2 separate regions of the Homo sapiens genome follow, and region 1 is linked to region 2. The links come from fine-mapping of genetic effects on gene expression. A gene starts in region 2. The other region holds a variant in brackets. All regions are shown on one strand. Distances are from middle to middle. Region 1 has its middle 20 kb from the start of IGLON5. Region 2 holds the start of LINC01872 (long intergenic non-protein coding RNA 1872).

The links. PIP is the estimated chance that this variant, and not a neighbour inherited with it, causes the effect.
Region 1: its variant is fine-mapped to the expression of LINC01872 in testis (GTEx, PIP 0.98).

What each region holds. Positions count from the first base shown.
Region 1 is chr19:51,284,097-51,299,805 of GRCh38, reverse strand. No RefSeq gene overlaps it. Among named protein-coding and RNA genes, the nearest start is that of IGLON5, 20 kb to the left of the region's middle. RefSeq lists enhancers at 2,586-3,263, 4,622-5,300, 5,979-6,657, 6,658-7,336. The variant C/T (reference allele first, on the strand shown) is at 6,483.
Region 2 is chr19:51,266,410-51,282,118 of GRCh38, reverse strand. It overlaps LINC01872 (long intergenic non-protein coding RNA 1872), which reads right to left and starts at 10,853. Exons shown (of 3, transcript NR_136526.1): 1 at 10,547-10,853; 2 at 3,248-3,365; 3 at 885-1,285. It overlaps SIGLECL1 (SIGLEC family like 1), which reads right to left. Exons shown (of 6, transcript NM_001385465.1): 5 at 14,590-14,746; 6 at 12,789-13,548. The coding sequence ends at 13,522. LOC107985327 (a long non-coding RNA gene) reads left to right here and starts at 10,952. Exons shown (of 4, transcript XR_007067309.1): 1 at 10,952-11,100; 2 at 11,875-11,956. LOC107985326 (a long non-coding RNA gene) reads right to left here and starts at 343. Exons shown (of 2, transcript XR_001753981.1): 1 at 1-343. It also overlaps the pseudogene SIGLEC24P.

The sequences.
Region 1 (15,709 bases), 18 kb before region 2:
TTTTTATTTTTTGTAGAGATGGCGTCTTGCTGTGTTGTCCAGGTTGGTCTCAAATTCCTGGCCTCAAATAATCCTCCTGCCTTGGCTTCCAGAGTAGCTGGGACTACAGGTGCATACCATCATAGCCAGCCTCAGTATATATTTAAAGGGAGTCTTGCTCTGTCACCCAGGCTTGAGTGTAGTGGCACGATCTTGGCTCACTGCAACCTCCACCTCCCAGGCTCAAGCAATTCTCCTGCCTCAGCCTCCGGAGTGGCTGGGGCTACAGGTGCACTCCACCATACCCAGCTAGCTAACTTTTTGTATTTTTAGTAGAGACAAGGTTTCACCACGTTGACTTCAAGCGATCCGCCTACCCCGGCCTCCCAAAGTGCTGGGATTACAGGCATGAGCCACCGCGCCTGGCCCTTAGTATATTTTTGAGAGAATAAATTAGTTCCTATCCCTTTCATTGACTGAACTCTTCTCATCTTCAAAGACGTCCCTCCCCGACTCTCTGTTTCCTAGGACAAGGTCAGGTATGGTTACCCACTTTGAGATGTACTTTTCTTTTTTGTGCCATGTCCCTGGAGCCGAGCTTGGTGCTAATAATAGCAGCTGAAGCATTCCCTGAGCAAGGTTGGATGGGACGTGGCGCGGGGGGGTGAGGAAGGGGCGTTCCCAGCCCTGGCTCAGGTGTCTCGGCCGTTTGTTCAGTCAGGCGGGCTCCTTATCCTCTCTGAGTCTCCTCATCCTTTTCTACAGGATGGGGATAATCTCAGAACCCACCTCACAGGGCCATGGTGGGGACCAGCAGTGCGATGGTCTGTTTATGTGCCAACCTGGCTGTGTTACAGACCCCAGCTGCTCAACCAAACACTGAGACATGTCGCTGTGGAAGGATTTTGTAGCTGTGACTGACGTCTCTAATCAGTTGACTATGCTGTATACATTTAAGGTATACAACATGATGTTTTGATATATATATATATATACATAATCAGATGATTACTACTGTCAAGCAAATTAACATATCCGTCACGTCTCATAGTTACCTTTTTGTTGTTGTTTTTGCTCTAATCAGTTGACTTTAAGTGAAGGAGATTATCCTCAATAATGTAGGTGGGTCTGATTCAATCAGTTGAAAGGCCTCAAAAGCAGAATGGGGGTTTCCCGGGAAAAGAAAGAATTTCGCTTCAGCTGCTGCTGGAGTTTCCAGACTGCCCCTCCTGCCTGCCTGCCCTACAGACTTCACACCTGCTGTCTTACTCGGTGTGGACTGCTACAACAAAATACCACAGACTGGGTGGCTTATAAACACAAGAAATTCAATTCTCACAGTTCTGGGAGCTGGGAAGTCCAAGATCCAGGCACCAGCATGTTCAGTGTCTGGTGAGGGCCGGCATCCTGGTTCACAGACAGTGCCTTATGCTATGTCTTCACATGGTAGAAGAGGAAACGTCTGGCCTCTTAGGTCTTTTTTTTTTTTTTGGCAGGGTTTGGCTCTGTCACCTAGGTTGGAGTGCAGTGGCACAACCTCCACCTCCCAGGCTCAAGTGATCCTCCTGCCTCATCCTCCGAGTAGCTGGGACCAAACGCATGTGCCACCATGCCTGGCTAATTTTTGTAGTTTTAGTAGAGATGGGGTTTCGCCAGGTTGCCCATACTGGTCTCAAACTCCTGAGCTAAAGTTATCCTCCTGCCTCAGCCTCCCAAAGTGCCGGGATTACAGGCATGAACCACCATGCCCGGCCATCTTAGGGCATGAATCCCATTCATGAAAGTTCCACCTACATAACCTAATCACATCCCAAAAAGGCCTTAAGAGCAGAATGGAGGTTGCCCAGGAGAAGAAATAAGAAGTCTTAGACTTCCCAGCTTCCCGAACTGTGAGAAATGAATTTCTTGTGTTTATAAGCCACTCAGTCTATGGTATTTTGTTGTAGCAGTCCACACCGAGGCCTCCAGACCGCATCATAGTGGGGGTTAAGTTTCAACTTAAAAATGTTGGCGAGACACAGACATCCAGTCCATAGCACCTGCCTAGCCAGCTCTCAGAATCACATAAGCCACTCCCATGCAATAAGCCTTTGTATAAGGATCAGCTACTCGTTCTGTTTCCCTGGTGGAACCCTGATGGATATAAACAAGAGGACCCATGTAATGTGCTTAGAACATGGCCTGGCACAGACACAGTGTGCAACAGACACAGGCTGCCGTCACCGTGCCCTTAACCCCGAGCTGGTTCCTGAATAAACATGAACTCCTCTGTGCCTCACAGTGATCCACGGTATGCTATACCCCCATTTTGCAGGTGAAAGCTGGGGTTAGGGAACATGGGAGTGGCCCACACTCAGGGCCAGAGCTGGGATGTAAACACAGGTGGCTCAGCTCTGTTGTCCAAGTGGCCACTGCAGAAGAAGTTCATGATCCCACGGACCCCCCCACCCTGCAGTGTCCCATGGTTGGGGGAATCCGCATCTGGGAGAGGAAGGGATGGTGGCAGCCCTATCCACAGCCATTCTCCAAATTTAGCAGGGTACAGGGCACACAGAGAGTGCATGGAATTGAGAGAGAGAGAGAAACAGAGACAGAGAGACTAGACTTTGAGGGTCAATGGGAGGGAGAGCCTAGACCTGCTCCTGGAGCCAGCAAAGCCTGAAGTGGCTGCAGGGCCCCAGACAGTTCCCTTCCACAGTCTGCACTCTGGAATGGGGAGAAGTGAGCCTGATGTGATCCTGATGGGCCTTGCTCCTAGGAGCAGGCAGGAGAGGGCAGGGCCATCTCAAATCTGGCTTTGTCCCCAGGCTGTGAGATTCTGGAAGGACCTCCCCTTTGTGAACTTCAACTTCCTTGTGGGTAAGGGCAGGGGGATAGCATCTGTCTCAGAAGGTAGGAACGTAACCTCAGGGAGGCTTCTGAGCCTCTCTGGGCCTCAGTTTCCTCCTCTGTAAAATGGGCATGATAATGGGACCGATTCCACAGGGTCTCTGGCTTAAGTGAATGAAGGCCTGTGAGGGCTTGGGTCACCCTCAGTCCTGGCCAGGACAGTGATCACGGCTGCTTCCGTCATCTCCTGAGGGAACAGAGGTTTGTACAGAGCCACCTGCCATGGCCTCCTCCTTGGATCCTCTCCTTGTAGATGTACAAATGCACACAACTGACCACTGGCCAATTAGCGGTTTGCTCCATGGACTCAGCCCCCTCTGGTCCCTACAGGGAATCTTGAGGAGCCGGCAGTGACCTCAGCCTAGACGGGGAAACACAGCCTGGTATTAGACCCCATCTGTCTGTCTGACCTGGAGTGCCCTCTTGTGTCTTTCCCTTGACTCTGGGGAAAGAGTTCAGCCCAATATCCACTTCTTGGGAGATGATTCCACTTTCCAATCTCACCTGTATCTGTGGAGCTGCTGGGCCCCTGCTGCGCTCATCCCTCAGCCCACCCATATGGATGCCACATTTTTCCTGAAGTCACCCTCCTAGTCCCCACGACCTTTCAATTGGTGGGGGATCAGGACTGAAGTCAAACTCAGGGACATTGTCACCACTGTGCATGTCCTTCAGAGAGAGGGGGAAGCTGATCCCCCAGGTATCAGCTCCTCCCTTGTTTCTCCTGAGGGTGAGCGGGGCGACAGTTGAGGCCTGTTTGCAGGGAGCTTTACCCAGGCGCAGCCTGTGGCCCCTTGCCTGGCTCAGTTCTCACCATTGTCTGCCTCCTGCCCTAGAAATGCTGCTTGCTCTGCCCTTGCTGGAGTGCTCTGACCCCCCAGCACCATGCCTCCTGCCTTCAATCTTGCAGCTTTCTGTGCCTGGCGGTGCTGTCACCTCTCCCTGCATGCCTGCTGGGCTCAGGTAGCAACACTCAGCTCCCCGAGCCGGGTCAAGCCCTCCCTCCCTCAATGCCAGCTCCTCCTCCCCTCCCCTCTCCCCATGCTTCTTGGGACACAGCCCTGGCCCTGCTCGAAGGGTGTAACAACCTGGAGGTCTTATGGGCAGGACCTGGGTCTGACTTCTCTTTGTCCCCAGCCCGCGGCCTGGCACACAGGAGGCCTCCGGGGATTTGTGGCCACATGAGTGACATGAGTGAACACCTGGAATGTTTTTCTCTACCTAGAAATCCCTCCTTACTCTTCCACACACAAGCTTCCTCCCAGAACCTGGGGATTCTTGTTGCCCTTGGCAAAGCGTCTGCGTTCTGAATAACCCCGCCTGCTGTGGGCAGGAAGGGTGTTCAGGGAGCAGGAGTCCCCTCCACATCTATGCCTCTGATCTGAGTTTGCAAATGAGAAGGCTCATCAGGGTTTTTCTTTGACCCACGCGGCGCTGCCTTTTAAAAACATGTTCTCAATTGCTAATGTGCCGGAATCAAGATATTTCACACTGAAATCGAGATCTCTGGATTCTCCTCAAAAGACAAACAAAAAAAAATATGAAGAGCTAGCTGTAGTCTCCCCGTGTTCCTGACCTGTGGGGAGGGGGTGGGGAGGAGTCGGAGGGAGTTCCGCCACTGTGAGCCGCCGCCTTCAGGAGGGGCAGCTGCTTTCAAGACAGACACGGCCCCCATTAGGCCAACTGTGCCCCTCTTGTTCCCTGCCTGGTGGCTGTGAGCATCTGAGTTTGCAACCTCTGCACTAGAGTCTCATAAAGTCAGGAGAAAATGTCCAGGACAGGGTCAGCTGCTGCAGCGGGGGACAAGGGTCCCGGGTTCCGGAGTCCTGAGCAGTGCACAGCCTTGCAGTGTGGCCCGAGGCACGGTGAGCCTCAGTTTCCCTGTTTGCAATGCAGATGTGCAGAGGCTGGGGCCTCATGGTTCCCAGTGTCTCCGTGGATGTGCTCTTGGGGGTTCTTCAGGGTTTCAGCCACTTCCCATCGTGCTGAGCATGCTTCAGTTTCTCTCTCTGAAGAAGGCTGAGGCTGGGTTGGATCCATTCTGGGCTCACAGCGGCCCCTGTGGCGGCAGCAGCCTGTTTCCTGGTGCTGCCCGCCTGGCGTATCCCTGTGTGTTTTGTTTCTGCTCCTGTCAGCCTGGCTGCTGGGGTGGCGTGTCCCTTGGGCAGGTGTCAGGTGTTAGGCGTGTCCCCTACATTGGCTAACATGAGGGCTGGCGCTGGGGAGGCCCCGGGGCATGTTTCCCCAGGAAATGGGTGAGAGCCGGGCGACGGCCTCTGGGTCTGGAGTCTGGGATGGAGTCGCACCTCTGCCTGGGCCAGGTTTCCACGTCCTGGGCCGCATGCCGTGATCCATCTCGGAGTCTACACTCTTCTTTCTCTCCAGAGCCCTAGACTTTGGGAGAACCACAGTCGGTTGCTCCGCTGCCTTAGACAAGCCCAATCCCCTCTCTAAGTACCCAACACGGGGGAATCCAAGCAGCCTCCTTAAGCCTCTGTTATGAGCGGAAGTGTGGATCCACCCCACCCCCCATCATTCATATGTTGACATCCTAACCCCCAGTGACTCAGAATGTGACTGTATTGGAGACAAGGTCTTAACATCGGTGATTAAGGTTAAGTGATGTCACATGATGGGCCTGAATTCAATGACTGGTGTCCTTACAAGGGAAGGAAATTAGGACCCAGGCACACGCAGAGGGATGACCCTGTGAGGACACAGGGAGAAGACAGCATCTACCGGCCAAGGTGAGAGGCCTCAGAAGGAAGCTCTGCTGCTGGCACCTTGACCTGGGATTTCCAGCCTCCAGAGGGGGAGAAAATCAGTATCTGCCGTTCAAGCCGCCCAGTCTGTGGGGCTTTGTTTTGGCAAATGTAGCATCTGCTGTGTGGGGCGAGGGGGCCTGGGTCTCTCCGTCCTGAACAAGTGCCTCCCCGGGGTTCTGCCAGGTGATGGGGTGGGGGCCCTGGCCTGCGGCCCTGTTGCTTGACAGTCTGCCTGTGACTGTCCCAGGGACTTACCTCCAGCCCGGTCTGGTGGGGTGTCAGCTTCAGGCATTTTGGGTACTTCTGTTTCCTCCAGCAGCTCTGGTTTCTTAAGGGGCAAGCCTTCTTTGGCCTTGGGACTCTGATGCTCCTCCCACCAGGTAAGCATCTTCATTCTAAGGCAGGAAGCCCCGTGGTGAATGCTGTGCTCAGTCCCTGCCCCGTCCAGTTCCCAGAAGGAGCCCTGGGCTGGGCCCAGAACACCAGCTTCCTCCGCTTCCTGGTTCTGAGACCAGCACAGCCCCACCCCACGCCGTCAAATGGGGATAAGAACCTCTATTGTCTTGGCGTGGACCCTCTCCCAAGCTTCTTTCTGGGCCTCCTGGAATTCACTCTGTCCCCCAGAGCTGCCCGGCTCCTCTCCTGCTCACAGCCCTCCCATGGCTTCCCAGTCCCCCCAGGACACAGCCCAGCCCTTCAGCCTGGTGGCCCTTCGTGTCTGGTCCATTCCTGCTTCTCTTGCTGCTCTGCGATGTCTCCATATATACTTTTCAGTTTTGGACAGGTCTTTTTTTTTGCACCTTTCTTCCTCCTTCGAATATTGCTGGCTCATGTCTGCATGTCCATGCC[C/T]GGCACATCGCCTTGCTCTTTCTGACAGCTGTGTTGTTCTGTTGTATGGCTGTCCCATGGATTATATAACTGTTCCCTTTCCTTTCTTGCTCTGGCAGCTGCAGGGGCCACCTGCTGGTCCCTGGCTGGCGGCTGTGTCCTTCTGTCCCGTGTCCCCTGCAGAGCAGCCTGAGCAAGCTTTAAAGACCCGACCTGTTCCTCCCCAAATGGAGATCCTTCCATTGTTTCTTTCTGCGTTCAGACAATAAGATTCAAACGTCCATTTCCTGTCTGAAAACACTTGCTCTACAAAAACATCCGAAAATACTGATGGGGCTGAGGTCGTAAGGACGTTGGGGACTGAAGATCAGAGGCCACGCATCAACTGAGGGTTGGCTGCACACTGCTGGGTTGTGGGGAAGCGGGGGCTTGCTGTTATGATTACCAAGGGACTTGCTTTAAATGGTCCAGTGACAGCAGACAACAAGGCCTTGGGTCCATACTAGGTAGCAACCTGGATATGACACCCCCACATCAAGGGGGGCGCCAGAAAAAAAATCTAGTCATTGATCAAGGGAATGACAAGGAAGCATGTCTATTTTGGCCTGGGCTTTCGGTGGCAAAAAAAAACCTTTTTGTATTTATCTTAGAAGCTGAGGCCTCCATTTATAGAGATTTGCATCAGAGAGCGACAAAGTGAGCAATGAACACAAATAGCCCCCGGTGTGTTTCGCTGTTGGGCAACTCACACAAAACTCATTTCAGGGGGACTTGCCCACCACATTGTCCGCATATGCTTCTTGCAGGTAAAGTCCCCACTGAGAGCAGCTCACCTTCCAGGATGACCAAGCATGAGAGGCAATAGCCCTCCACGAGGGAAGATGAAACCCAAACTTCTCACCAGAGCCCTTGAGGCTCTGCCAGCAGGTTAGCCTCTCCCAAGCTCTCCTTAAGCTCTGAGCTCATCTGGCCCTGCTGGGCTCTTGAACTCGATAAACCTTTGCAATCTCAGAGCCTAGAACTGCGGCTCCCTCAGTCTGGGCAGCTCCCCACACTCCTTTAGGCCTCAGAGCAAGTACCTGAAGGCTGCTCCCCGCCCCGTCCCCTTGCCACACTCTCTCCCAGCTCCCCGTTTTCCTCCAGGCACTTCCCAACATTTGTCCCTACACATCTGCATATGTCCTCGTTCAGTGTCCACCTCCCTGAGGCCTGGTTTGCTCTACGATATTGTCAGAGGTATTTGAACCAGAGTAACTCCATCTTGAACAGGGGCTGGGTAAAATAAGGCTGAGACCTACTGGGCTGCATTCCTGGACAGTGAAGGCATTCTAAGTCACAGGATGAGATAGGAGGTCGGCACAAAATACAGGTCATAAAGACCTTGCTGATAAAACAGCTTGCAGTAAAGAAGCTGGCCAAAACCCACCAAAACCAAGATGGCGACAAGAGTGACCTCTGGTCGTCCTCACTGCTACACCCCCACCAGCACCATGACAGGTTACAGATGCCATGGCAACGTCAGGAAGTTACCCTTCTGTTTTAGAACCCTCATCCTCTGAAGAAAGAGTCTCCTTCTGCTACTTTGAGCCTCTGGCTATTGGGCCAGAACATCCCCTTCCTCTCATTTCTGTCACTGGCAACCCCCTAGGCCAGGCCTCTGTATTCCCAGAGGATTTTTATGCTTGACTCTCAGTCTTTCTGTCCCCAGATTTCTGTCATCATTTTGGGCGCCTTTGACATTCCCATGGACAGACCCAATTGTCACCCCGACATGTCAGCTCCCAGAGCTTCTGAGGCCAGTTCCTTTTTGTTGGTGGTGGCTGGAATCCCTTCCTGGGGGAGCCAGCTGGGATGGGCTGTTAGAGGTGGCATCGACCCTTGACTCAGGTAGAGCCAATCAGTCTTCCCTGGGATTGCTAAATCACCACGAGAAGACAAGTTCTCTGTCAGCTGGAGTTAGCTAAGAGAGGAGGACGTGAATCTGGGGCTGGCCATCTTGCCTGTAAGGTGAAGAGAGCCTCCAGAGCTCACGTTAACCAGAAGGAAACAGAGCCATAGGGTGGGGACAGACAGACTCTTGGTGAAGCCATCTGCATGCCTGGATTCAGACATGCCTGAAGTGTAGATCCGCCTGTCACGGGTGGAATTGTGTCCCCACAAATATATATGTTGAAGTCTCAACCCCCAGTAGCTCAGAATGTAACCATGTTTGGAGATAGGGCCTTTTAAGGGGTTATTAAGGTTAAATGAGATCATTATGGGTGGGCCATAGTCTATGCGACTGTTTTTGGAAATAGCGCCTCAAGTTAAATGAAGGCTGTTCAGGTGGGGCCTTAATCCTATATGACTGGTGTCCTTATTTCTTAGTCTGTCCATGCTGCTATCACAAGGTGCCATAGACTGGGTGGCTTATAAGCAACAGAAATTTATTTCTTATACTTCTAGAGGCTGTAAAGCCCAAGATCACAGCACTGGTATATTTGACGTCTGGGCAAGGCTTGCTTCCTGGTTCATGGATAGCAAATTCTAGCTGGGTCCTCATGTGGTGAAAGGGAGGAGATGGCTCTCTGGGGGCTCTTCTATTAGGGCGCTAATCCTATTCATGAGGACTCCACCTTTATGACCTAATCACCTCCCAAGGCCCCACCTCCAAACACCATCATCTTGGGGGTTAGGATTCCAACAAATGAATTAGCAGGGGTAGGGGCATACAGACATTCAGACCATAGCACCTTACATGAAGAGGGAGAGACCGAGGGGTGTGTGCACAGAGGTATGACCATGAGAAGAGGCAGTAAGAGAGTGAGGAGAGAGGCCTCAGGAGAAACCAACACTGCTGACACCTTGATCATGGACTCCCAGCCTCCAGAATGCTGGGAGGACAAACTTCCGTTTTTGTTTGTTTGTTTGTTTTTTGAGACGGAGTTTTGCCCTTGTTGCCCAGGCTGGAGTGCAATGGCATGATCTCAGCTCACTGCAACCTCCGCCTCCCAGGTTCAAGTGATTCTCCTGCTTCAGCCTCCCGAGTAGCTGGGACTACAGGCATGCGCCACCACACCCAGCTAATTTTGTATTTTTAGTAGAGATGGGGTTTCTCCATGTTGGTCAGGCTGGTCTCAAACTCCTGACCTCAGATGATCAGCCTGCCTCGGCCTCCCAAAGTGCTGGGATTACAGGCGTGAGCCACCGTGCCCAGCCTCAAATTTCTGTTGTTTAAGCCACTTAGTCTGTGGTATTTTGTTATGGCAGCGCCTGCAAACTAATACGTGCCTTTAGACTTAACAGTCAATCTGTTCCTACAGCAGATTAAAAATGGTGGCAAATCCTTGGATAGTTTTCCTAAGGACAGGTGGAATCTATTTCTTCTTCCTTTGAATCTTGGCCAGCCTGTGACTTGCTCTAAGAGAATGCTGTGGAAGTGATGTGCTATTGATTCTGGGCCTGTCCTTTAAGAGGACTGGCAGCTTCTGCTTTGGAAGAGAGCACATGGAGAGACTCGGAGCCCACATGGAAAGAAAGAGGGGCCCAGCTGAGCCTCACCTTCTGGCCATCCACACCAAAATGCCTGGTTTGTGAATGAAAGCATTTTGGATTCTCCATGCTAGCCCAACTCAAGTGACCTCCAGTGACACCACAGGGAGCAAAAGAATCACCCAGCTGGGCCCTGCCCAAATTCCTAATCTAGGAAATCATGAAAAATACTAAAATGATTATTGTTTGAAGCCACTGTATTTTGGGGGATTGCTATGATCTGAATGTTTACACCCCCCGCTCAAATTCACATGTTGAAATCCTAACCCTCAAGTGATCGTATTTGGAGGTGGGGCCTTTGGGAGGTGATTAGTTCATGAGGATGGAACCCTCCTGAATGAGACAAAAGCCTTTATAAAAGAGACCTCAGCGAGACCCCAGTCCCTTCCACCAAGTGGGGACACAGTGAGAAGATGTCATCTATAAGGAAAAGAGCCCTCACCAGACACTGAACCTGCTGGCACCCTGACCTTGGACTTCCTAGCTTCCAGAACTGAGAGAAATAAATCTCTGTTACGCACAAAACACCCAATCTATGGCATTGTGTTGTAGTAGCCCAGATGGACTAAGACAGGGGTAGAGACATAGCAACAGATGACCAGAACTGTTCCCTTTCTCTTTGAGCTTGTTGAATTCAGCCCTTATAACTCACAACTGGAAGAGACCTGATGAATGCAACTGTTTCCTTTAACTACCAAGGGTTCATTATCTCCCAAAACTTTTCCACTTATGAAAATGTAAATTCCAATACCTCATGATCTGCCTAGTTCTTCTATCCATCCAGTTTTTTGGTGCTCCCCTTCCAACTGTTCCCATTATATGATATCACAGGTGGAAGCTTCAATTCCAAGACACTATATTTTCTAGAGTCTATGAAGACTCTCTGTTTCTCTTCCTTTCCTCCCTCCCCACCCCACTAGGTACAACGGCTCCCCAGTTAAAGCGCTCTCTTTCTCCTTCCAGCCTCCTTGCTTGCCCGTCTCCAACCTCCCCACTCCATCACCCTTCCTGGCATCTTGTCCATGAATACTCAAACCTAGACCAATGCCATCATCTACTCCTTTTTTTCTGCTATAGTCTGAATATTTGTGTTCCTCCAAAATTCTTCTGCTGAAACATAATCTCCAGTGTTTTAGTATTTGGAGCTGGGGCCTTTGGGGAGTGATTAGGTCGGGAGTGTGTAGCCCTCATGAATGGGATTGTAGTGCCTTTATAAAGGGAGCCCAGATAACTCCCTTTCCCTGTACACCATGTGAGGACACAACCAGAAGGTGCCATCTGTGAACCAAGAAGCAGGCCCTCACCAGACACCAAATCTTCTGGTGACTTGATCCTGAACTTCCCAGCCTTCAGAACTGGGAGAAGTAAATTTCTTTTGTTTATAAGCCACCCAGTCTATGTATTCTGTTATAGCAGGCTGAATGGACTAAGACGTCTTCCAATGACTGCTGCTGGGAGGAGATGTCACATAGCAATGATGCTTGCCACCATTAACGATTACTAATCTCCAGTAACCAATGGGCCTTGGCTACTGCTCAGTGGTTGCTCTCCTTGTCCTTATACAGATCCTGCTCATTCTCCCCAGTGGCTATTCCAACCACCCTAACACATCACACTTCTTCTCAATTCCCCATGGATTCCCCATGCTCCCACCCATGTCATTTTCAGCAGACAGCCTTGCCATGCTTTCCTTGCTATGAAAATAAGCCACTGGGTGGGAGATCCTCACCCCACCAACCCCAATCCTAAATGCTGCCTAAAGGTGAACAAGAGAAAGAACACCTGCCACTGGATTTTGAGAATAACATTGAGAATAAGGATAACTGGTTGCTTTAGACAATGTCATGTCAGTGGCCTGGTGCTGGGGAGCAAGTGGAAGAGTGATGAGAATCAGGAAGTGGTGTAAGATACTTTCTCGAAAGAATATTGGATAGTACATAGAGGAAGCCTGTGGGGCTGAGGCGGGAGAGATTTGTGCCAGCAAAGAAAGAATGATTGAAAATTTAGGAGCCAGAAGGGATGATTGATGGAGTACAGCTCCTAAGGCAGTGGAGGAGAAGGATTCCCAAGCAGAGAAGGTGGAGCTTACCTTGGACAGGAGGAAGAAAGCCTCTTTCCCTAAAAAAGGCAGGGAGTACATCACTCAATGTCAATGGTAATAACGTTGTATGTGTTGGGGAGCTGATTTTTTCCTTGGAAGTAGGTAAACCTTATTGCTGAACATGACGGGATGAGATAAGAGACTGGGGGAAAGAGGGAAACACCTGGCATACTGACAGAGTGTGAAGTTGGAGGGAGTTGATTAGAGGCAAGCTAAAGGATTTTCTGGGCAATACTGATCCCCTACCTCTGCCCCAAGGATGGAGAGACAGTGAAAGAGTAGGGTTCTCTTAGCAACTCCCTCATACAGACCTCTAACCTAGTACTTGTTTACTTGACTCCCTCTCTCTGGAAAATACAGGACACAGGGTAAGAAGGGAAACAGATAAAAAAGTTTGACAAACATTAGATGAGAGCCCTATGATGAAAACAAAGAGCAGAGGCAATATAAACAGTGGTTAAGAATCTTTCCAGAACTGATGAAAGACACCAAAGCATAGATTGAAGAGGCCAAATAAATATAAATAAAGACAAATCTAAAAAAATGATATCCACACTCAGTCACATCAAAGTAAAAGTGTTAGTGCTAATACCCAAAAGTCCAGGAGACCTACAGGAGTCCTGAAAAGACACCTGGCCCCGGAGAGAGGCCCGGGGAAGTTTTCCAGAGCATGTGATGGAGGGGCTGTAGGTTGAGTCCTAAATGATGAGTAAATGTCAGCCAGGTGTGAGAGGGGAGCAGGGGTAGAAAATGAAATGCAGAGGAGGGGGAGTATTGGGCAGAAGCCACATATCAGCAAAGCTGCAGGACAAGAAACGCATGTGTCACAGACAAATAGGCAAGTTGGTGTTATGAAAGTGTAAAGTGTGAGGCCAAACCGGAAATGTCAGAGACAAAGAGGTCTTAAAGGCAGAGACAGATAAGGAGAGATCATTTTCAAAGGAGCAGCAGATGAGAGTCATGGCTGACTTTTCTCCTGTGATAATAGAAGCAAGATATAATGGAACATGGAATAGTTCAAGATACTGAAAGAAAATGCCTGCCGATGCAGCATTCCAAACTTGGCAAATATACCTTTTTTTTTTTTTGAGACAGAGTCTCACTCTGTGGTCCAGACTGGAGTGCAGTGGCACAATCTCAGCTCACTGCAGCCTCTGCCTCCAGGGTTCAGGCGATTCTCCTGCCTCAGCCTCTCGAGTAGCTGGGATTACAGGTGGACACTACCAAATCTGGCTATTTTTGTTTTTTGTATTTTCAGTAGAGACAGGGTTTCACCATGTTGGCCTGGCTGGTCTAAAACTTCTGGCCTCAAGTGATCCACCCACCTTGGCCTCCCAAAGTGCTGGGATTACAGACATGAGCCACCACATCTGGCCAAAATATCTTTCAACTATGAAGGGAGAGGGAGAGAGAGTCGGGGGGCGGGTAGAGAGAGAGAGAGAGAGAGAGAGAGAAAGTGAGAGAAAAAACCAAGAATGTTTGCTACCAGAAAACCAATTCTAAACAGCTTTCTAGAATATATTTCAGGAAAAAAGATTCTGGATGGAAGATCTGAGAATACTAACAGAATGTAAGGAATAAAGAATAGAGACTATGGTAAATATATATGTAAATCAAAATGAGCAGTGAATGTACGAAATAAAACCAAAGATGATGATGACGTCTTTGGGGGCTCAAAAATATAGAATTGGTATTTCATTAATAATAAAATGCCATTAATAGTAAGATGCATAATTTATATATCACTAAGGGAAAAAAATGTTGCCAGTTAAACTATTAAGAACTAACATAGTCCTGAACAGCACATGAATCATCCAATGTCATGTTAATTTAAATTTTAAAAATGTCTTCCGAAGGATTAAGCAATTCCTTCTGGTTTCATTTGCATTGACAGTTTATGAGATAAATTACCCTTTTGCTTTTTATCTTACAAGAAAAAGTAACATGGCTTCATCCACATGTGGGTATCTCTCTTTCCTAGGTTCTATAAAGCACCAGATTGTTGCTTTACAAAAAATATGGAATTCTGGTCATTTCTCAAACAAATGTTACAGGTGTCACAGAATGGAAGGTATGCTTACTCTTTTACTTCTGTGCCCTTCTGTATACACCATAACTTTGTTTCAGTGGCAGCTAATAATGTAATACTTTTGCAAATGTTTGAAAAGGCAATAAATTAAACATGTATCAATGAACAAATAATTCAATTACAGTGATAATATGAACAGCAATGACAAGAGTTCAGGCACCTGCAGGCAATGACAACTTTATCAGGACTGCCACCTGAGACCAACAGCAACTGTAAATCACCATCGGTTGAAGACATATCTCTATTTCAGAGATGTTCGAATGTGAAATAACATGTATATTGGAATTGATAAAATGCCACAAAGCATGTTATAAAAATAGCATGTAAGTTGTGAGGAGGAAAACTAGAGTTCAACTGTTCTAAGGTCTTTATGTTATCTGGAGGAGGGTAAAGGTTTTATACTTTGAAATTATCAAATATATACTTTGATAACTGAAGTATAGATGTGGTGATTTCTGGGTAACCAGTAAAAGAATATTTAAAAAACATATAATTGCATAATTTTCAACTAGTAGAAAGAAAAGAATGGATTGATAAAAATACCCAGCCAATCCAAATGAAGACAAGTAAAGGGAAAAAAAGAAACATATGGGACAAACTAGGATGGTATATTGAAATACCATCAGTATTTAAATGCACCAGTAATTACATCAAGCAAATTAATTTAAATCCAATTTAAAAATTACAAGACTAAAAAAAGTCAAAATCATATGCTGATTATGAAACACATAACTAAACCTTCAGATCACAGATTGAGAGTAGATGTAAAAGAAGGAGCTGGTGGAGCTATACTAATATCTGACAGAATAGGCTTTAATACAAAGGTGAAGAAGAAAAATGGTATCTGATATAAGGAAGATACTTGTATGCACTTTTTTTTTTTGGGGGACAGAGTCTCTCACTCTCTTGCCCAGGCTGGAGTGCAGCAGCATGATCTCGGCTCACTGCAGCCTCCGCTTCCTGGGTTCAAGCCATTCTCCTGCCTCAATCTCCCAAGTAGCTGGGATTACAGGCACAAGCCACCATGCCCGGCTAATTTTTTATTTTTAGTATAGACGAGGTTTCACCATGTTGGCCAGGCTGGTCTCAAACTCCTGACCTCAAGTGATCCACCTGCCTTGGCCTCCCAAAGTGCTGGGATTACAGGTGTGAGCCACCATGCTCGGCCTTGTATGCACATTTTAAAATAGACTTGAAGCTAATGACATGGCCTCAAGATTTAGAAAGCAAAAACTGACAGAATTTCAAGAAGAAACAAACAAATCCACAATCATTGTGGGAGATTAGAAACACATATCTCTTATCATTAGAGCAGGCAGGCAATTAAGTCAGTCCAAGTAGAGAAGATTTAAACAACATGAATAATGAATTTGATTTAAAGGGTATATATGTATATGTATGTGATTGTGTACACACACACAGACACACACACAGAGAGATATATATACTGCATTTGACAGGCATAAAATATACATTCTTTTCAAGTTCACATGGAATATTTATAAAAACGAGACAAAAAATGTGTTA
Region 2 (15,709 bases):
GGTCACGTTGGCTAGGGATAAGTTCAAGTGACATCCAAGGGTGTTGCCATGGTCCTCAGGCCTCAGGGTGAAGTGCAGCACCGAGGAGGAGCTGCTGGAGATGGCTGGGTTCTTCCGGGAGTGGAAGAGGGCTTTGGTTTCTTTGCAGGTGCCTTTGAGGGTACAGTTCAAGGTCACAGTCTTCTCAGCCAAAAGAATCTCTGGCATGTGGAGCTCTGGCTTTTGGGTTAGCTCTGGAGAAGAGAGAAGTAGACCCAAACCTTGGGGGAAAAGGGACCCTCATGGACACTTCACTGATGCACAACGTTTCCAGGTTACAAAGTGCTCCCCACCCATTAGCTCATTTGCAACCCCCTCACCTCCCCAACCGCCTTGTGAAACCTGGGATTGTTGTGGTTTAATGGTTTTTCACAAATAGATTTCCTTTCTCTGTGTGGAAGGGGAACAGCCCAGCGTCCAGGTGATAAAACTGAAGAGAACTACTCAAGGTTGTAGAGCTTGAACCTGAACTCTGGTCTTCAAAGACTGAGGGTGAGTAGTTTTCTGAGGCTCTACATTGTAGAATGAGGATTCTACATTCTGACCCCTTACCTGAGTCCTAGACTACATGTGCTAGTGGTAGCTCCTACTCTGTCTCCCTTTTCCAGCCCAGTTCTCCCTTAGACTCTGCCCCTTCCCAGCCCAATCTGTGATCATTTCCTCTCTATTTTGTACTGGTTGGATGATATAGGGTGAATCGCTTCTCTCTTTGCCATTTCTATTTGGAAAAGTAAAGTTACCTATTATACTGATCTCATTGCATCATTATAAAACTCAAATACCTAAGGTTTTGTAAAGCCCAGTGCCCATCAGGTAAAAACCACATAATCACCAGAACCACTTTTGGATTTCCTTCTTTCCAAACCACTTATCGGATGATATTGAACATCACCTGACACAAAAAGTTTGATATTCTCCCCCAGGAAAGCACTTTTTTGTTCTCCTAGATCTGCGTAGAATAAATATATTATGCTGTTCCCTTTGAGTATATCGTGGATGAGTAGGGTACAGTCTTCTTCATCAAGATTCCCAGTCATGTAAAATTTGTCCTTGGTGTTATCACCAATGGTAGCATTGGGTTTATTTGTAGCTACCAGGGAGCTGATGTTTTTGTTGAGCCAGTAGTGCATGATCATGGAATTGCTTGGGGGTTCTTTGGGAAATTCAAATGCACAAGGGATTGTAGTGCACAGCCCCTCTTCCACTGGTATCTTCTTGACTTCCATCAAAACATGAGAAAGTAGCCCTGTAAGGAGAGATCCAAGTTGAAAAACAGACCCACCTAGCATACTCCTGTATTATATCTGTGCATTAAAAGAGTCACCTTACCTAAGAAAGGCTTGACACTTGTCCAACTCCTATGAGGTGATCTCTAAACCCTTGGGATATCCTGCCTGATAAGAGTGTCTTTGTTTACCTGGGACCTTGGACTTCATCAGTTGATGCTAACACTATGATTTATGGTGGGAGCCCTGGATCCTGGGGCATCAGCTTGACCTCTGGAGGGGCTGAAGACTAAGCTAAGTCAGTGACCAGACCCACAATAAAAACCCTGGACACCAAGGCTTGGGTGCACTTCTCTACTTGGCATGTCTGTGCATGTCACCACACATTGTTGCAGAAAGAAGTAAGCTCTATTGGTGCAACACCACTGGGAGAGGTCAGCTGAAAGCTCATGCCTGCTCTCTCCTGGACCCTGCCCTATGCACCTCTTCCCTGTACTGATTTTCATCTGTACTCTTTTGCTATAATCAACTGCAATCATGAGTAAAACAGTTCTGCTGAGTTTTGAGTCCTTCTTGTGGATCACTGAATCAGAGGCATCTTGGGGGGACTCCTAAACTGCACCACCCCAATCTAGTCTGCTGGATTTTTTATTGCTCTTCTTGTTGGTATTAACCGTATCTTGTGATCTGGGTCATGTTGTATCATTTCTGAATCTCAGTTTCTCAATCAGAGAAGTGGGTACGATAATACCAATGCTACAGTATTGTGATAATTAAGGACCATAACTACAGAGGCACATGGCCCTCTGTAATAACTGCAGATTTTGACTTCAGTCACATTACATTACAAGAGACCATGTCATAGTGAACCGTTAGTGAATAATTGTGCTCACCACCCATTAGCTCATTTGGAACTCCCTCCCCTCCCCAACAGCCTTGTGAAAGCTAGGATTGTTGTGGTTGAATGGTTTCCACAAATAAATTTCCTTTTGCTCTGTAGAAGGGGAACACCCCATTGTCTAGGTGAGCAAACTGAAGAGAATTACTCAAGGTGGTAGAGCTTGAACCTGAACTCTGGTCTTCAAAGACTGAGGGTTTTTTGAGGATCTATATTGTAGAATAAAGATTCTACTTTTTTTTTCTTTTTTAGACAGAGTCTTGCTGTCACCCAGGGTGAAGTGCAGTGGCACGATCTTGGCTCACTGCAACACCCACTCCTGGGTTCAAGTGATTCTCCCAACTCAGCCTCCCCAGTAGCTGGGATTACAGGTGCCCACCACCACACCTGGCTAATTTTTCTACTTTTAGTAGAGACAGGGTTTCACCATGTTGGCCAGGCTGGTATCCAACTCCTGACCTCAGGAGATCTGCCCAACTTGGCCTCCCAGCATGCTGGGATTACAGGCATGAGCCACTGTGCTTGGCCAAGTACCTAATTTTTTAGGTACTTCATCTTACCTCAGCCTTCATCTTACCTCAGCCCTGTCTGCCTTCCAACTCCACCCACCCTTACCTCCCCAAGACACCTCCATGCTGCCTCTCCTTCTACTTACCCAACCATAGCAGTGGCAGTGCCATCAGCCCCAGCGAGATCTCAGGGGCAAGAGAGGACCAGGATGTATCCTGCTGCTAACTCTGACCTCAGATTGGTCTGTCCTGGAGGGCAGGATTTGGAATGGATGAGGAGAGGGGCAGCAGTAAGAAGCATGGGGTGAGGCTAGAAAGAAGTCCACTGCTTGCTAGGGGCTCTTGTCTTTTCAATCCACCCCTAAGGTCTGCGAATCTTGTGAATTAGGGGCCTGATGGGACCAGATGCTGGGGAGCTTCAAGAACAGAGTTTGGGCTGGGCGCAGTGGCTCACACCTGTAATCCCAGCATTTTGAGAGGCTGAGCCCAAGAGTTTGAGACCAGCCTGGGCAATGTAGGGAGACCCTCTCCCTACAAAATGTTAAAAAAAATTAGTCGGGTGTAATGGTACATGCCTGTAGTTCCAGCTACTCAGGAAGCTGAGGTGGGAGGATCTCTTGTGCCTGGGAGGTTGAGGCTGTAGTGAGCTGTGGTCACAACACTGTACTCCAGCCTGGGCAACAGAGCGAGACCCTGCCTCAGAAACAAAAGAACAGGGGTTGTCCGCACGCTCTTTGTGAAGCCTCAACACCATGTCTGCTTTCCTGTCTCTAGTCTGCATTCCCACTCCATTACCTCTTCAAAGAGCCTCAAATGCCAAGCTGAGGAGCTCGGACTCCCTCCCACGTCAATGGGGGAAGTCATGGAAATTATGGAATGGTTTTGAACCATGGGAGAACGGGTTTGGGTGTTCGAAAGGTTCCTCTGGGTCTGCAGTGAGGAGGAAGCAACAGTCCAGGAGAAAGAGGATGAAGTCTGAGCTGCAACAATAGCTATGGGGGACAAAGAGAAGGTGATATATTTAAGAGAGATATTTGAGAAATAAACAATATTTCAGCGGCTGATAGGATACATTCCAAACTCCCTTGCCTTTCATTCGAGCTCTCCCTGATTTTGCCCCGCTTTTCCCTTACCTCGATAGCCCCCATGCCTGCACCCTGTCATTCTTTCTTTTTTGAGACAGAGTCTTGCTCTGTCACCCAGGCTGGAGTGCAGTGGCGCGATCTCAGCTCACCGCAACCTCTGCCTCCCGGGTTCAAGCAATTCTCCTGCCTCAGCCTCCTGAGTAGCTGGGGCTAAAGGTGCCTGCCAGCACGCCCAGCTAATTTTTGTATTTTTGGTAGAGACAGGGTTTCGCCATGGTGGCCAGGCTGGTCTCAAACTCCTAACCTTGGGTGATCTGCCCACCTTGGCCTCCCAAAGTGCTGGGATTACAGGCGGGAGCCAATGCACCGGCTGAAATGGGGATCCTTTCTACAGATGCTCCGCACATCCTTCCTCCGCCTGTTTACTCAGGCCACTCCCCGTGTCATGGCGTCCTTCTGCAGCTCTGTCCTTTGCCCACATTCAAACCCTCCTTCTCTCTCCAAGTCCAGGTCAAATGTAACCTCCTCCTGGAAGTTCTCTCCTGGATCTCACAACCAGAAAGAAGCCTCCTCTCTCAGACTGTCTTCAGCAGCCCTAGCTATCCATCTCCTCTAGGGCAATATCTCAGGTAGACCCTGAGAGTTGCCTACCTGATATTCAACCTCTGTTTCCTCCTTGTTATTTCAAATTTGTCCAGGTGATCAAGCCACCAATCTGAAAAATAAAATCTCTATTTTCTTGTTTCATTTTCATCTAGGGTGGCCATATGGCAGAGTTCTGGCCAGTGAGCCAAGGAGAAGAAAAATGTTATCAAATTACTATCAGTGAATAAAAGCCTATTCAGCTTTTCTCCCTTTTTTTTTTGCCATCCCAACTGAGCTCCCAAGGGTTTTTTTTTTTTTTCATGTAATACTAGCTAATAAAATTCCAGGACTTGGTTTTAAAAACATAAATTTTCATAATAAAGTACATGACTCTCAGAAAGAGTTGAAGGACACGTTTCCTGCCCCTGCAGCAATAAATCAAAAGATATTGTTCTGTGTTATAAAATGGTTCAAGGAATTTGATTTGATGTTGTGCAAAACTGAGACTGTTTATAAGAATATCATTTATGTTCTCCTCTGCAATATACAGTTTTGTATGAATATTCATGACGGTTGCTGACTTGTTCTAGTCTTTGGTAATACGAATCTGCTCTTGGAAGAATAATTTAAACCAAATGGTCTTATGAGACTACAAAGATGTTAGAAATTATTCCATGTCTTATGAAAATGATCCCCAAATAAAATGGAATTCTGACGGGTTGTCTTATTTGATGATTTCTTGCTCTGGTAATAATAACATTGTAATTGACATCTCTGTTTTCCTAAATTGTATACCAATCTGTAGGACCGTACTCTTCTTTCTCATGAACAATGCAAAAAAATAAAAATAAAAACCTGGCCAGGCGTGGTGGCTCATGCCCGTAATCCCAGCACTTTGGAAGGCTGAGGCAGGTGGATCACCTGAGGTCAGGAGTTTGAGATCAGCCTGGTGAAACCCCGTCTCTACTAAAAATACAAATATATATATAGAGGGTGTAGTGGCAGGCGCGCCTGTAATCCCAGCTACTGGGGAGGCTGAGGCAGAAGAATCGCTTGAACCCGGGAGGCGGAGGTTGCAGTGAGCTGAGATTGCACCATTGCACTCCAGCCTGGGCAACAAGAGTGAAACTCCATCTCAAAAATAAATAAATAAATAAATAAATAAATAAATAAATAAATAAATAAAAGAAATCTTTAACTCCACTAGATTACTGAGCGCACATTTTGAGAGACTTGTCTACTTAAAAATACCAAACTTAAGAGGCTATCTGCTGGAGAGTTTTGGGAGTTCTGCTTTTCTGACACTAGCACCATCATTTCCTCCTCCTCACCTTCCTCTTCTTACTTCCTGGAAGATGAACGTGATGCTGGAGATGGTGCAGCCACCTGGCGACTATGAGACAACTGTGAGAATGAAAGCTAGAGATCTGGGGATGTCACTGACAACAACATGGGGAGCCTGGTTTTCTGATGACCCTGTGGAGCTATTGTAACAACCCCACACAGCCCACTGCCATATCTCTTCTCCATTTGATTGTCACGCTAGTTGGGAAACTGATAAAATGCCTTACCAGGGAATCTAGCCAAAAGTGAACTCCTAGGCCAGGCGTGGTGGCTCACGCCTGGAATCCCAGCATTTTGGGAGGCCGAGACGGGCAGATTGCTGGAGCCTAGGAGTTTGAGGCCAGCCTGGGCAACATGGAGAAACCCCATCTCTACTAAAAGTACAAAAATTAGCCAGGTGTGATGGCACATGCCTGTAGTCCCAGTTACTCGGGAGGCTGAGGTGGGAGAATTGCTTGAACTGGGGAGGCAGAGGTTGCAGTGAGCCAAGATCGCGCCACTGCGCTCCAGCCTGGGTGACAGAGCAAGACTCCATCCCCACCATAAAAAAAAAGTAAAGCTTCCATGCTTGCAGGTACCAGATGAATGGGGCCTGTTTGTGAAGACATAGGAGACTCCTTGGGGACTCCTAGAAAACTTTTGGAGGAAGATGACAAGGAGACTCTGCAGGGGGCTCTGCAGCTGAGGAAGGACAGTGGAATTTCCATTACTCCATTGTTCCAGTGATATTTCCACCATTGCCCCTTCACATTTCCACATCTGCATGGCATCCTTTTAAATTATAAATCAATCATGTCAGTTCCCTGTTCGTTACCATCTGTTGGCTTCACTTTACTGTCAAAATAAACTCCAAAATTTGACAGATTTTGGCAGACTGCTAGAAATACTACCTAACCCTACTTCCCCTCTGTTTCTCTTTCTCTCCTTGGTCAGCTTCTGCCCCTTCACAGTACGCAGGGAAGTAACTCTGTATCTATTCTGACCAGAATGTGAGTTCCTTGAGAAAATTAGTCATGTCCAAATATCTTTTGTGTGTCATGTTGGAATCACCTTTGTGTACCACTTCTGGGTGGCCTTTGTGTGTCATGCCCAAGGTACCTTTATGTGACATAATGGAGTCCACCTTTCAAAGTCAAGTCTGAGTCACTTTTGTGTCTCTAGTACCCAACACACAATCTGGAACACAGCTGGTGCATAATAAAGCTTTATCAAATGAAAGAAGATTTGGAACCAAGAAATTTGGGGTTTTGGCAAGGCGCGGGGACTCACACCTGTAATCCCAGCACTTTGGGAGGCCAAGGCGGGCAGCTCACTTGAGGCCAGGAGTTCGAGACCAGCCTAGCCAACATGGCAAAATCCCTTCTCTACTTAAAAAGCAAAAATTAGCCAGGCGTGGTGGCATGCGCCTGTAGTCCCAACTGCTCAGGAGGCTGAGTTATGAGAATCACTTGAACCCAGGAGGCAGAGGCTGCAGTGAGCAGAGATTGTGCCACTGCATTCCAGCCTGGGAGACAGACAGAGAGAGAGAGAGAGAAAGGGAGAGAAAGAGAGAGAGATAAATAAATAAATAAATAAATCTGGGTTCTAGCTGTGGCTCTGCAGATACCTTAAAATAAATAAATAAATAATACCGAACAATCATGGTGGCCCATGTGCTGTGCACTGGAGATTCACATACTTTATCATTCTCAATCTCACAACAGCACTGTGATGTAGTTCTCAATGCATCACTTCGCAGATAAGGAAACTGAGGCCCAGAACAGCATAGGAACTAGTCAGGTTCACAGGGCCAAGAAATGGACATCCTGAAGTCATAATGTAGGTCCCTGGACTCCGAACCCAGTGTTCTTTCCGGTATGCCAGGCTGCCTTCAGAACTGCTGTGTCATCACGGTTGAAGCCTCTTCTCCTCTCTGAGTCCCATGCTTCATGTATAAAATATGGGAATAAATCAAACTGTCCTGTCCACCTCACAAGGTTTGAGAAAGACAGTGGGAAAAGCATATAGTTTTGCACCATATGAGTTACAAATGTCTTCCCCCTCGACTTGTGTGGTAGGCAAAATTCTAAAGATGTCTCCCATTCCAAGATTCCTGTGCCCTGGTTATTCAATTAAACATTAATCTACGTGCTTCAGTGAAGGGACTTTGCTGACTGAGTGAAGGGACTTTGCTGATAGAGTGAAGGTGACTAATCTGCTGATCTTAAATTGAGGAGATCATCCTGCACTATCTGAGTGAATGTAATGTAATCACGTGAAACTTGCAAAGCAGAAAAGTCAGAGAGATTCAGGAGAAAGAAAGGGCATACATGAGCCAGAAGTGGAGGTCAGAGAGATGTGAAGCATACGAAGGATTTGACTCACCATTGTTTGCTTTGAAGATGAAGGAACGAACCCACGAGCCCATGAGGGCAGCTCCTAGAAGCTGACAATGACCCCAGCAGACAGCTAGCAAGGGAATGCAGACCTCACTACTACAAAGCATGGAACTGATTCTGAATGTGTTTGGAAATGGGTTCATCCAAAGGGACTCGAGAAAGCAACATAGCCCTGCCAACACTGTGATTCAGGCCTTGTGAAAGCTGGAGCAGAAAACCAGGGGAACCACGCCACACCAGAACTTTTGACCTTCTGTGAGATCATACATGAGTGTTACTTTAAAAGCTGCTAAAATTGGGCTGGGCCCAGTGGCTCATGCCTATAATCCCAGCACTTTGGAAGGCCAAGGCAGGTGGATCACATGAGGCCAGGAGTTCCAGGCCAGCCTGGGCAACATGGCAAAACCCTGTCTCTACTAAAAATATTTTTAGAAAATTATCCAGGTGTGGTGGTACTTGGGAGGCTGAGGAATGAGAATAGCTTGAACCCAGGAGACAGAGGTTGCAGCGAGCCGAGATTGCACCACTGCACTCCAGTCTGGGTGACACAGTGAGACTTGGTCTCAAAACAAACAACAAAAAAGCTGCTAAAGTTGTGGTAATTCTTTTTTTTTTTTTTGAGACGGAGTCTCGCTCTGTCGCCCAGGCTGGAGTGCAGTGGCGGGATCTCGGCTCACTGCAAGCTCCGCCTCCCGGGTTCACGCCATTCTCCTGCCTCAGCCTCCCAAGTAGCTGGGACTACAGGCGCCCGCCACTACGCCCGGCTAATTTTTTGTATTTTTAGTAGAGACGGGGTTTCACCGTTTTTAGCCGGGATGGTCTCGATCTCCTGACCTCGTGATCCGCCCGCCTCGGCCTCCCAAAGTGCTGGGATTACAGGCGTGAGCCACCGCGCCCGGCCAAGTTGTGGTAATTCTTATGAAAGCAACAGGAAACCCATACAACTTGGATGTGAAGCCAGTTCAAAGGAAGGGTTCTAGATTCTTCTGTGAGTGGACGGCCAGCAGTCCAAAGGCTTGGTCTTTGCCTCCCATTTTCTAGGTTTTTCTGGGCCAGGCCCTTCCCTCACTAGGGAACTGCTTCCTCATTTAAGATAGTCTAGAGTTTGCAAATTAGTGGCTTTGTGAGGTAGTTAAAATGCAGGGGGTTTTATTTAGCCTGCATTAAGAAAACTGCATACAGACTTTCTTTCATTAGTTGCAATGTTTAAAAATCAGGATCCTCACATAAAAGTCTGAACTCCCAGCTACTTTTTAATAAATTAGATCTGACAACACATGGCAGATATTAACTTTCCCCTTTAATATTGGACAATTGTTCTCCAGTCCATTGCTGCCCCTGCTCTCCCTGCTGCACTCACCTGGGAGGGGCATATAACACAGTGGTTAAGACCGTGTGCTGAGTCAGCCTGCCTGAGTTTAAGTCTGGCGCCACCATTTGCCAGCTGTGTGACTGTGGGCAAATTACTTCCCCTCTCTGGGTTTCCCGTTTCCTCACTTATAACATGTAGATTTTAACAGGATTCATCTGACAGAATTGTTGGGAGCATTAAATGATTAAATGAATGAATGCATGTAAAACCCTCAGAACAGAGGCCAGCACAAAATAAGTGCTAGGCAACTGTTTATCATTCACATCACCTGCCTGGTTCCCTCAGCATTTAATTTGTGACCGCTCTTGACTCATCTCTTTTCTCAGTGATGTTTTGATTCAAGAACCAGCCCTCTGCTTTTCCATTCTGATCGCTGCCTCTCTTAAAAAAACGACTCCCTCCTTACATCAAGATGCTACTCAGGCTTCCAGATAACAAATCCTATCTCTGCATCATAACCCACTTTTGCTTTTTTTTCACTATCAAAATCCTTCCTCCTCCTCCTTTAATTTACAACCTCGAATCAAAGGTTGGGAAGAGCTCTGGGCTGGTTCCAACTGGGGCTTTGCCAGTAACTCGTTGGATAGCTCTGGGCAAGTTCTGTCCCCTTTCTGCTTCCCCCTCTTTTTCCTCCTCGGTAGAATGGGAGGGTTACTGCAGACTATGTAAGGGTCCTTCAGATTCAAAAACTCTGATCTCTCACATCTGTAATCCCAGCACTTTGGGAGGCTGAGGTGGGAGGATCGCTTGAGCCCAGAAGTTTGAGACCAGCCTGGGCAACACAGCGACACCCTGTCTCTACAAAACAATTTAAAAAATTAGCCCGGCATTGTGGGTGCAGCTACTCTGGAAGCTGAGGTGGGAGGACTGCTTGAGCCTGGGAGGTCGAGGCTGCAGTGAGCTGAGATTGTGCCACTGAACTCCAGCCTGGGTGACAGAGCAAGACACTGTCTCAAATTAAATAGATGAATAAAATAATGAAATAAAAATAAAATTCTGATCTCTTTCCAGTCTCACTTCCTTCTCCAGGCCCTGGTGTGTGCGTGAGTTTTCTTCACAGGTGATCTCTTTTCCCTCCCCCTAAATTATCACTTCTTTTTCCATATTTACCTCCCAGTCTCAGGGTCCAAGGAGCTCCAGCCTGGTCCTTCCTCAGCACTATTTCCTTAAAAACCGAATGTCCTCCTGAATTTTTGCATCAAGCGGGTTTGTTTGACTTCCTATTACTGTTTTCAATGACTCCGGATGCGCCCGATGAACTGACTGACACGTGGAATAACCGTGTACACAAACACGGAGTGCCTCACGGGGAAGTGACTAAGGCAGAGGAAGGCTAACGGATTCGCTGAACTGGGAGTCCCCTGAGGCCTCGCCAACCTCCTTGCACGGGGATACCAATCCCTTGAAGCCCCGCCCCGCAAGCTCGCGCGGGTTTGTCCAGAGCCAATCAGGGCCTGACCCTTCTCGCGGGAGCTGCTGGGATGCGCAGCCGCATAAGAGAGCGCGCGGGTCTCCAGAGCCTGAGCTAGTCAGAAGCAACAGTTGCTACTGCGTCCCCCGGACATTGGGAGAATCGTTTTCCTTGGGCAGCTGGTTCCAGACCCCCACCAGTCCTCTAGACTCCAGGCCAATCAGTTGCTAAGGGACGTTCCTCTCTCAACCTGGTATGTGCGGGAAGTCAAGGCATTAACTAAGGCACAAAATGACTAGTGCTGGACCCCAGGGCTGGTCAGAAGGCACCCTGTGTACTCATTGTTTCCTGTCCTGCACGCGAGGCCCCTATCACCGAGAAAACAAGACACACGATGAAGCCCAGCCTCTCTATTCCCATTCCCAAACCCATCTCTGACCTATCTCCAACCCGATCCCTATCCTCTCTCCTATTCCTTTTCTACATTTTTTTCTCTTCTTTCCCAACACTGGCACTCTCCCTCTCCCCAGCCTTGTCTGCCTCTCCCTCCCAAACAGAGGATGTATCTTTAGTAGAAGCAAACACCAAACCTGTTACATAGAGGCTTCTATCCTCAACTCAAAACCTCTGCTGCCCAGGATTCTCACACAGCTCCACTGGATGTGATTCTCAAACAATCTGCACTTTCCAGAATTACAAAGCATAAGAGGAAATAACCCTCCATAAGTGAGGACAAAACCTAAACTTCCCACTAGAGCCCTGGAAGGCCTGCAAGTTCTGGCCCTTCAGGAGCTCATCCCTCAGTCAATTCCAGTCACAGCGGCCTGCTCTGGGCTCCTGAACTCACCAAACTGTTCTCATGTCAGAGCTTAGGATCTACTGCTCCCTCTGTCTAGCCAGCTCCTAATAATCCTATAGGTCTCAAGGCAAGTGTCACTTTCTCTGAGAGGCCTTCTCTGACTCTGTAATCCAACCTAGCTTCCTTTCCTGTGCTTTCTCATAGTATTCTGTCCTGTTTTCTTTCTAGCACTTATCAACATTTTAAGCTATAAATTCGTCTGCATTTCTTCATCGTCTGTCTATGTAGACCATGACTCCACGGAGGCAGGGTGAGTGTCTTACTTCTTCCCCTCATTATCTGGCACATGGTGGCACATCTGATATTTCTGTGAAATGTGAACTGCCTGTGAGAGGTGCTTATACATGTGGGGGCTAACGTAAACGTCCACCCTGAGTATAAGATGACCATCTAGCTGGTGCTACAGGATCACTGTATTTACCCACAAATATTGCCCCAGGGAAGAGATGACCCTCTTTCCACCTACTGAAAACTACTAGCATCTGGCCAGGCACGGTGGCTCACTCCTGTAATCCCAGTACTTTGGGCGGCCGGGGTAGGTGGATCACCTGAGGTCAGGAGTTTGAGACCAGCCTGGCCAACATGGTGAAACCCTGTCTCTACTAAAACTATAAAAAATTAGCTGGGTGTGATGGTGTGTGCCTGTAATCCCAGCTACTCGGGAGGCTGAGGCAGGAGAATCACTTGAACCCGGGAGGCAGAGGTTGCAGTGAGCCGAGATTGCACCATTGTACTCCAGCTTGGGCAACAAGAGCAAAACTCCATCTCAAAAAAAAAAAAAATCTACTAGCATCTGGCTAGAAAGGAGGTTGTCATCCATTCTGAGAGGAACAATACATAGTTGTGGTTCATTCTAATGCCAGAATCCCTTTCCCATTCCTTGCATGCCTGCCTTTCAATCTGGCCAAGAACTATTGCGATAACCTCCTAACTAGCATCTTTACCTCCAGCCTTACCCATTCTAAATATATCATATGTGGGGTCAGGGTACGGAAATGATTTTTCTGTCTATATCTGGTCACTCTACTTGCTTGCTTCAAACCTTAAAACAGCTTATAATTAATTAAATCATTTGACAAACATTCTTGAGATCTTATTGTATTTTAGGCATCATTCTGGGTGCTGGTGATAAAAGTAGAAAACAAGGCAGACAAAGTCCCTGTTCTCTTGGAACTTACATTCTAAGGGAGTCAGGATAAGGTCCTACAAGATAAAGCTCCAAAGCTCCAATGAATCTTGGCATTCAGGGCCCATCGTCATGTTTTTTCTCACCTGCATCTCTGAACAGTACTTTTCACCCATTCTCCACCCAGATATGGGTCATGTGATGTTCAAAGGATGGGGAATGAAAGATCTTGTCCAAAGATAGACAGCCACCAAGCACTGAAGTTGGGATTCTATCCAGATATGAAGGCTTGAAAGCCTGGCGCTCTTGTAGGTGTATCTCAGGCACTGACACACAGTAGGCGCTCAAAAGTAACTTGCTGATGGACTTGATTCATATTGTCACATGTATTTTTCCTTCTTTTGACACCTTCCCAGGGTGGCACAGATTTCTTCTCATTTAGCCAAACAACAAATTACAAAGTGTGTCTTCAGAGGTTCTAAGACTAGGTCTAAGAGTAACCACCTATTCAATGGAGAATGAGTGTTAAGGGATGTGTAGGAATTGAGAGGGTTTTGTGAGCTGAGGAGAGTCCAGGGGGCTCCAGGTTTATTACAGCCTCCAGGGTTTCTGTGAGCGCTATAAATTTTGCAGATCTTTGTAATTCCAGGGATAATGGCGACTCCAGGTATGAGGCATGTTCCACAGGCTTAGCTGGCTCGTTTATCTTGCTTTTCCTGAAAGCGAGGTGCAAAATAGAACAAAGAAAAAAGAATGTTGGAACAGGTCTAGAGGTGAGGTATCCAAATCTTAAAAAGACACCCCCTTGTGCACAGAATTAAGGCAACATGGAGTGAGCACTGGCTTAGCCCTTCCTCACAACCCCATGGTTAAAGCCTGCAACTCGGTCTTCTCCATCTGGTCCTCTCTGTGCATCTTCAGTACCCATAACACTGACTGTTCCTTAGACTCCTCAGGGAATCTTGCCTGACTTCCTCAGGTAGGTTTGGTCCCTCCCTCTTCTGCACCACCGTAACTCCTGGCTCAGCATCCCCTACTGTGAAGGTGCCTTCTCGACCAGTCTAGTTGCTCTCTGAGGACAAGGCCTAGGTTTGGCCCATTTCTGAGACCCCAGCATTGTCGAGCACAAAGATTAGGAGATATTGCAGGAAATATTGGTGGAATTTAACAGATGGCTTATCTACAAAAGGACACCAACTGTTCATGCAGGGTGTTAGGAGGGCAGCAGGATAATTCTGATTCTGGAGAATCATAAACGGTAAATAACAGTGAGGCATAGCAACCTCGGACACTGTATCTTCCAAGCCCTGCTGAAGATGTGGGGTACAGGGTGAATGAAGGAGTAACCTGGGCTTGGCCTAATCTCTAACCACTTCAGGCTGACTTGGCCTGTGGCATCTACACCAAGCTGACTGCTGCCGGCCATACACTCAGAGGCCAAATCCTTGGTTTCCACTCTGATGCTACAACTGCTATTAGGATTTTCCCCAACTGCCTTTTCAGTGGGGATTCAATGTAATGGTGTGTGCGTGTAAATTGATTTTAATTGTTCTTTAAATTGTTTCTCTTAACTTTCATCCTTCTCCTCTCTGGGCCTTAGCTTCCTATTTATAAAATGACCTGAAAGCACACTCTAGCATTAGGTATCCTGCAAGACTGAGGATGATAACACCTTCAAAACACTGTGTGCTCCTTTCCCTGTGGGTCTTATTATCAGTATTCCGATAGACTAGATTCCAGACACAATAGGTACATACCAATATCCGGCTCTCAGAAAATGTGGCGACTACGGGTTTTCCTGGTTCCTCAGGCTTCAGAGACATCTCAAGTTCTTGGCTTGCTCTGACTTTAGAGCTCTTTTTTGCTCTGATCGCTGCAGCTTTCTTCGCCTGCTTCTTTCTGATATGTTTCACTCTAAGGAAATAAGCCTTGGATTGGTTCTGGCTCTCCATCTCCCTGAATCCCCAAATGGGCTCTATCTTGACCAGAACTTCTGATTTAGAGCCTCAACAACAGTACCAGCTTGCTGTATGACCTAGGGCAAGCCACACATCCTCTCTGGGAATTAGTTTCACACTCTGAATAAGGGGGATACCCTGCTTATTAGGCTGTGGGGCTCAGATGAGGTCAGCTAAGAAAGGGCCTTGCAACTGGCAGAGAGATTGTTACTGGTCTTCAAGTCCTGTTGATTATACTTTGAAAATAGCTCCTCAGTTTGCCCTGACACCTCACTCCTCATCTTTGTCTCCCCATAGCCAGCCATGCCCAAGTCCCACCTCTCTGGCTGCCCCTCATCACTTGCCCCAGGTCAGGCCTTCTATTTCCTGCTTAGTCCCCTGCACCAGCTTCCTGCCTGGCCTCTGACCTTCTGGCTCTCACTCTCTCTAATCTGTGTCCCACCCCAAGCTCAAGCTTTCCTTCACAGCTTAGCACTCTTCCATGGCTCCGAAATGAGGATTCAGTCCAAGCTGTCTGGACAGGCTCCCCTGCCCGTCTCTCTGGCCTGACTTCCTGCAACTCACCCCTTCCCACTCCATGCTTCTAGCTAATACATGCAGCTAAGTTTTAACACCCTGTGAACCAACACCAAGGATGTCTTTCAACCTCATTTTTAGCCATTACCTGGTACTCTCAATGCACCTGACATTATACAAAGACACTGGAAATGCCTCAAACATGCCTCTGGGCGTCTGCATACAAAGGTTAGATATCCCTTATCTGAAATGCCTGGGGCCAGAAGTGTTTCAGATTTCAATTTTTTTTTTTTTTTTTAGATTTTGGAATATTTGTTTATACATAATGACATATCTTGGGGATAGGAGCCAAGTATAAAAACAAAATTCATTTATGTTTCATATATACCTTATACACATGGCC